Linked DNA regions of Homo sapiens. The protein of the gene in region 2 purifies or fractionates together with the protein of the main gene of each other region. This does not show direct contact. Each region holds a gene or a part of one and is shown on either strand. Other genes may lie near its edges. The genes, in order: ACTR3 and ARPC4-TTLL3.

Region 1 (3,821 bases), on a different chromosome or scaffold from region 2:
CCATGCTCACGTTGCTTGATATCTAATCAATGTTACAGACTATTTAGTTCACCTTGGCCAACCTCTACATATTTCCAGCTGAAGTTGCTTTAAGTTGAAAAAACGGTATACAATCACAGAGGAGAGATATAAAGAAACAAGAATGCTGCTACCATCCTATTAGGGTTCACTCCTCTAAAAGTAGAGCAAAGGGATATCAGAACATACACAAGAAGGGCTGGAGTTTTGTTTCCCCAAATAAGTTAAGCGTAAGCTTCAAGAAAGTTTTTGATCTTCATGTTTTTGTAGCAAACAGTTAAGAACATCTCTGTATAAATATGCCTGAGATTGTCATCAAATAGCTTTATAAACATGTCTTTCTAGCTTATTCACTTAACTACCCAACCATCGCCGGTGGAAAAGACATATTTATGACAATGCTAACAATATTTTATTGGGCCAGGAGCATGACATCTTTACTGCTTATCAATATAGTTCTTTATCAAAAGATCTTTAATAAAAGCAAAGTGCAGAACAGTATATACAGTAAGTTCCTATTTGTGTAAAATAAGAAAGCTACATTTATTTCTACCTACACAGAAAATTACAATACAAGGACATCTAAGACATTCCAAGTAGTCTGTGTAATGATGGAAAAATGAGACAGGCTAGGGAAAAAAACTTACTTTTGCTAATCTACTCTTTGGTACTGTTTGAATAGTATTTTTATAATGTTTGTGAATTACTTTTCCAAGTAAAAAAAGGAGACCTTTGATACTGATGATGATACTACTGTAGGATATAGTTTGTCTTTTACAATCCCATACTCAAAGAATGAAGATTCACAAAAATTATTATAGGATTTTAAATATTCAGATCCACTCTAAACAAAAACTGAAGTTTACTCCCCAATTCTATCTTTAGAGTAAAAACAAAAAACTAAACACTTTATATTCTTTCACTTTTGAATAGACGTATTCCAATCCTAACGTGTTATTTTCATGAATAATGGAGTTCAAGTGTTCACTGATACTGCTAGTAAAAAGCCTATAAAACATTTCCCATTTTCTCTTTCTATAAATAACTGGTAAAATTTTAAGGTCACAAGAAATTTTCTACCATACACATTACAGAGATTTCAATAACTCCCAAATCTCAACAGAAACAGATATCACATACATAAAAACAAAATAGAATTACATTACTTAAAAAAAAAAAACATTAGAAAAGGTAATTCAGTTTTAATTTATTTTCATCACTTTTTCTTCATAATCCAGATATTTTAAAATGCAAAGAAAATTAACTTTCAATGATATGTTCAGGGACTGGCACTAAAAAAAATTTTCAGACTGCAAATGAGTTATACAAATGAAAATATCAAATGGAGATCCAGTTATCAAAATGAAAGCACTCAACATATTAAAAGTTCACAAGTATTTGTATTGAGCACATTACAAAAGTCAGCTTGCTAACTGTTGTGATTTTAAAGAACTATTGCAGAAGTCTGAAGAAAATAGATTTATTAGTTAACTTATAAAGAGATTAAAGAGGCTGAAACAAGTATTAAAAAGAAATTTGTGCCTTTATTAGAATGTTAGGCTTTAAATATGCCAATTTTGATAAATTATTGTTGTTGTTTTGTTTTTTATAAGAAATGACACTACAGAACTGCAATACTGGTCCAACACTCTTGTCTTTACTCTTCTTTTAAAGCAAGAAACAGAATGCGAGTAATCAGAAAGCACTAGCAGGCATCAGTTAATCCAAGATACTAGCTCTTAGTTCCAAAAGCACTTGCAAAGAAAACCTTTTGGGGGGAAGGGGTGGAGAGGGATGGAAGCACTCCATAATAACTGGAATCCCACGAGTGTGTATGCCAAGTCTCATGAGGCTATTTTTTGAATTTATCCTTTACTTGGTCATGGTTTTTTCCCTCAAATACAATTTTTCTTTGACTTTTTTTCCTCAAAGTATAAAAAGTATGAAATATAAACAAGCTCTTGCACTGCACACTTAGAAGTGTACAATTCAAGCATTATAGAGCTATCTACACACTGATAAATCCCATCGAATCTTGGATAATTCATTAATATACAAAATATCAGGGCACAGAAAGAACTAAAACCCACTTCTTTTTGTTACACATAAGATTCAAATATTCAATCTAAAGAAAAACACAATCACTTTCGCTCTCTTCTACATCTGCATGGTGATACACTTATTAAAATATTCCTGTATAATCATGTTTGGTGTTACTATTTCAAGTCAGGTTTAAAACCTCAAAACCAGCCATCCAGACAAAACAGGTAATCAGAAAGATTATCTCTTCCCCACCTCCCTAACCCCAATAACTATGAAGCCAATTTTACGACATGACTCCAAACACTGGATTGTGACGACAAATGCTAGGTCCAATTTCTTCATAATCCTTTTTGGTGTGGCATACTTGGTAGAACTCAGGCTGAAAACAAAAAATATGTATTTTTATAAGGGTCAAAAATCTACCATCTTGAAGGTATATTGAAATAAACTTTAAGAGTGATGCTTTAAAATAGATGTTAAGTCTAAAATGTTTATTATTAGTCCATTCATGGCATGAAAGCTTAGAAATTCTAGCAGCCATGACTTAAAATCAGCTATAAATCTTTATCGGAACTCCAAAAGAGCAATTAACTCCTGTCCCCAATCCTTGTCTCACACACCTGCTGCGAGGATTCTGAAATTTTGAAAAATGGAAGGTTCTCAAATGTCCAGTCTGTTCTGTTGAGACTTTCCCATACTTTCATTGCACCAATAATGTAAAGAAGCGGCATTCGCCTAACTACAGATAAAACTACTCCTAGTCATGCTATGACTATTTTTCGTCTAGTTCTAAGAAATGTCTAGATCATTTGCCTTCCTCATTCAAGGTCTGGAAAAGATAGACTGTTCCATGCTGTGTTACCTCATTTCTCAAGGCAAAGTCACAAACTCAACTAGGTTATATGGCCCAATTGAAGAAGACTAAAATTGAGGAAAAAAATAACTTTCACCTCTTATGTTGGAAATGGTTTTAAATCCAAAGTTGTACAGTTATTCAATAATTCAGATAAAAGCTCCTTCATTTTAATATTGCATGCACTACCAGAACAAAGCACCAATACTTCCTAGGTTAATGGTATTAGAACACTAGAACACCTTTTTAGGGGGCTTTAAAGACATTTTAATTTGGGGACAGGATTCTTAGAATAATTCCCTTTATTCAGTGTAAAACATCATACTTTCTATGCAATGAAGCTTAACTTTTACCTTAATGTTTTTAAATACTTAAACAGAACAAACAAGGACCTTCTGATGACTAAATTACCAGTTTTAACAGAACTTTCCCTACAGATAAACTTTAAAACATAGTATAAAATGGTCACTCTAAAATAATGTCTAGCAAGCTAAAAAAAAAAAAAAAATTAAATTCAAATGACTTCCAATTAAATTTAAATTACTTCCAATTTTTAAAATACTACAAACACATATATACAAAGTTTCCTATTATTTTGAGATACAATTTAAAGGAATTTGCTTTGTTCTTCTCCAAGTATTGATGGACTCTTCTATCTTAAATATATATATATAAATTTAAACATAAGCTTCAGCCAGGCGCAGCAGCTCACACCTGTAAACTCAGCGCTCTTTGGGAGGCTGAGGTGGAAGGATCACTTGAGCCCAAGAGTTTGAGACCAGCCTGGCCCAACATAGTAAGACCTCATCTCAATAAAAAATAATAATAATAATAAAGGCCAGGAGCAGTGGCTCACACCTGTAAACCCAACACTTTGCTTTGGGAGGCCAAGGTGGGCAGATCCCAA
Region 2 (3,476 bases):
GCACCCACCCCCCGCCAATGTGCTGGGATTACAGGCATGAGCCACTGCACCCAGCCTTCTTACTCTATTATATTTTTTAAAGCAGGGTCTCAGTATGTTGCCCAGGCAGGCTACCCTCCAACTCCTGGCCTCAAGCAACCCTCCCGCTTCAGCCTCCTTATCTTTTTTTTGAGACAGAGTCTCACTCTGTTTCCCAGGCTGGAGTGCAGTGGTGTGAGCTCTACTCACTGCAACCTCTGCCTCCTAGGTTCAAGCGATTCTCCTGCTGGGATTACAGGCACGTGCCGCCACACCTGGCTAATGTTTTTGTTGTTGTTTTGTTTTTGAATCTCTGTTTTTAAAGCAGGGTCTCAGTATGTTGCCCAAGCAGGCTACCCTCCAACTCCTGGACTCAAGCAACCCTCCTGCCTCAGCCTTATCTTTCCTTTTTTTTTTTTTTTTTGAGACAGAGTCTCAGTCTGTCGCCCAGGCTGGAGTGAAGTGGCGCGATCTCAGCTCACTGCAACCCCACCTCTGGAGTTCAAGCAATTCTCCTGCCTCAGCCTCCCGAGTAGCTGGGATTACAGGCACATGTCACCATGCCCGGCTAATTTTTGTATTTTTAGTAGAGACGGGGTTTCGCCATGTTGGCCAGGCTGGTCTCGAACTCCTGACCTTAGGTGATTCACCTACTTCAGCCTTCCCAAAATTCTAGGATTACAGGAGTGAGCCACCGGCCCTTAATCCTTTCTTATGAAGACACTTGCCATTGAATGTAAGCACCACACTGGTCATTGGGATTATCTCATTTAAGATCTTAAATTTATTTACATCTGCAAAGACCTTTTTTTTTTTTTTTGATTTAGGGTTTCACTCTGTCTCCCAGGCTCAGAGCGCAGTGGCGTGATCACAGCTCACCACAGTTTTGATCTTCCCAGGCTCAGGTAATCCTCCCACCTAGGCCTCCCGAGTAGCTAGGACTACAGGTGTGTGCCACCACACCCAGCTAATTTTCTGTAGAAACGGTTTCACCATGTTGCCCAGACTGGTCTTGAACTTGCGGGCTCAAGCGATCTCCTGCCTTGGCCTCTCAAAGTGCTGGGATAACAGGTGTGAGCCACCATACCCAGCTACAAAGACTCTTTTCCCACATAAGGTCACATTCACAGGGTCCAAGTAGACATCTCTTTTCAGGGGACCACAGTTCAACCCACTACAACTAAGCAGTGCCACACTTTTCTTCAGGTGGGTGTGGCTTATTGGATGTTTCATTTTTAGGTGACCTTGGCCCCTTGCTGAAGAAGGGATAGACCCATGCCCTCTGCAGAAGGGCTGAGGTTTAGGCAAGGCCAATTCCTTCCCCTGTCTCATGGCATTAACGTTCCTATGCCCGGTAGGTGTCATTCTGCTAGCTTGGCTTGTTCTCTGGGGTTGGGGGGCTCCCAGTGCTCGGCAGTTCTGGCAATATGTCCCTGCGTCGACTCACTGCCACGTGATCTTGGGTAAGCCATGCCTCCTCTTTCAGACTCAGTTTCTTCATCTGTAAAGTGAAGGCTCACGCTCCCCACCCCTGGATCGGAGATGCTGGGGGAGTCCCTAAATAGGAAGCCCCATGTCTGTCCTTAGGTGGGAATTCTGGGCCTCGCTGCACGGAGGAGCTGCTGATGGCCTCAGGCTCTTGCTGTGGACCCTGGGGTACACGGCCTCGCCCCATCCACTCTTGACCCTCCAACAGCAATGGAGTCAAGCCCCAAATACTTCACTTGTTTCTTTTTATTTGGTGTTGGATCCAGGACAAGGGCAGTGGGGAATCGAAGCAGGGGCTTCCCTAGCTTCATATCCCCCAGGCCCCTGCGCCTCTGGAATGTACCAACAAGGGGCAGGGGTTTCAGGGGGCTCAGCCTCTTCATGGGGCAGGCCTCAGCCCTGGGTTTGTCACAGTCTGGCCTTGAATTTGCCTTTGGCCTTGACCTTCCGACAGGTGCTAGGAATTGTTCCGACTTCAAAGGGCAGAGGCAACAAGGCACTTCCAGCTGGGGGCCTCGGAGGCACAGGAGAGCAGGAGCCTCGGTGTGAAAGGAGGGGAGAAGAGGGAGATGATCAGAAGTCTGTGGAGGAAGGGGCTTCTGAGGGAGACCAGCTCTTCCCTTGGGGTGCCAGCCAGCCTGGGAGCTGCCCTCTGCCTGTGCCCTCCAGCCCTGACCCCGTGCTCAGCACTGTCCACTGGGTGTGAGTCACAGGTCGAGGCCCACCTTTCTTGGCTTCAGGATGCTGGGTGCCACCTTGAAATCAAGGTTCGGTGGGAGGGAAATGAAGACCTTAGCCGTGGGTAGAGTCCTCAAGGCCTTGCCTGTGGTCGACAGGGCCTTAGTGCCCACCAGCTTGCTGTGCTGTCGTCTGAGGACCTGGCCCTGGTGTCGGAGTACATGGGGAGAAGGCAGCTGGGCCTTGGTGTGGAGGCTGGGGAAGTGGTGACGGGCTGTGGGAGCAAGAGAAGCTGTGAGGCCCTGGGGTGGGGCCCAAGGTGGCCTAGCTGCCCTAACAGGTACGTGTGGAGGATGGGGGGATATGGAGGGAATGGGGTGAAGGCCGACGGAGCCCTCCCGGTTCCTCCTCCAGAGGCAGTGAGAAGAAAACAGGGTAGAGTCCAACAGACCTGGGTCTGCATCCCAGCTGTGCCCCTTCTGAGCTGTGCAACCTTGGGCAACTTCCTTAAACTTCCTGATACCTCGGCTGGAAAATGGGGATAATAGCACCTACCTTGCTAGGTTGGTGTAAACACTAAAGGAGCTGGGCAGGTAGCGGTATGGGGCAAACTGTTAAGTGCTGGACATGTGTTAGTTCTTTCCCCGAGAGGTGACTGCTTGAAGGCAAAGGCAGAATACTGCAGTGGGAAAAGCGTGGGCGCTGGAGAGAGCAACCTGGGCTTAAGTCCTGGCATCTTTGAAATCAGGTCATCTTTGAAATAAGTCACTCTGTGAGGCAGAGTGACTACTTTGGAGGAGACAATACTCATTTGGCTGGGTTTTTTTTTTTTTTTTTTTTTTGAGACAGAGTTTTGCTCTTGTTGCCCAGGCTGGAGTGCAATGGTGCAATCTCGGCTCACTGCAACCTCCGCTTCCTGGGTTCAAGCGATTCTCGTGCCTCAGTCTCCCAAGTAGCTGGGATTATAGGCACCTGCCCCTACACTCGGCTAATTTTTGTATTTTTTAGTACAGATGGGGTTTCACCATGTTGGCCAGGCTGGTCTCGAACTCCTGACCTCAAGTGATCTGCCCGCCTCGGCCTCCCAAAGTGCTTTTTTTGTGTCTTTGTTTTTAAGACAGCATCTCGCTCTGTCTCCCAGGCTGGAGTGCAGAGGTGCGATCATAACTCACTGCAGCCTTAACCTCCCGGGCTCAAGCGATCCTCATTAGCCTCGCGAGTAGCCTGGACCACAGGCTCACACCACCGTGCCCAGCTAATTTGGCTGTGTATTTTTAAACAATACTTTGTGA

What was found.
Region 1: the proteins of ARPC4-TTLL3 (region 2) and ACTR3 fractionate together in Homo sapiens (co-fractionation; one large-scale study listed by BioGRID). This does not show direct contact.

What each region holds. Positions count from the first base shown.
Region 1 is NC_000002.12:113,955,979-113,959,799, reverse strand, and holds part of ACTR3 (actin-related protein 3), read right to left. Parts: intron 2,441-3,821; coding exon 2,345-2,440; 3' UTR 1-2,344. UniProt on the Homo sapiens protein: ATP-binding component of the Arp2/3 complex, a multiprotein complex that mediates actin polymerization upon stimulation by nucleation-promoting factor (NPF).
Region 2 is NC_000003.12:9,833,663-9,837,138, reverse strand, and holds the end of ARPC4-TTLL3 (ARPC4-TTLL3 fusion protein), read right to left. Parts: intron 2,713-3,476; coding exon of another isoform or gene 2,636-2,712; intron 2,459-2,635; coding exon 2,318-2,458; coding exon of another isoform or gene 2,214-2,317; 3' UTR 2,046-2,213; coding exon of another isoform or gene 1,650-2,045; 3' UTR 783-1,649; downstream 1-782. Other genes in the region: tubulin monoglycylase TTLL3, read right to left, coding at 1,650-2,045, 2,232-2,458.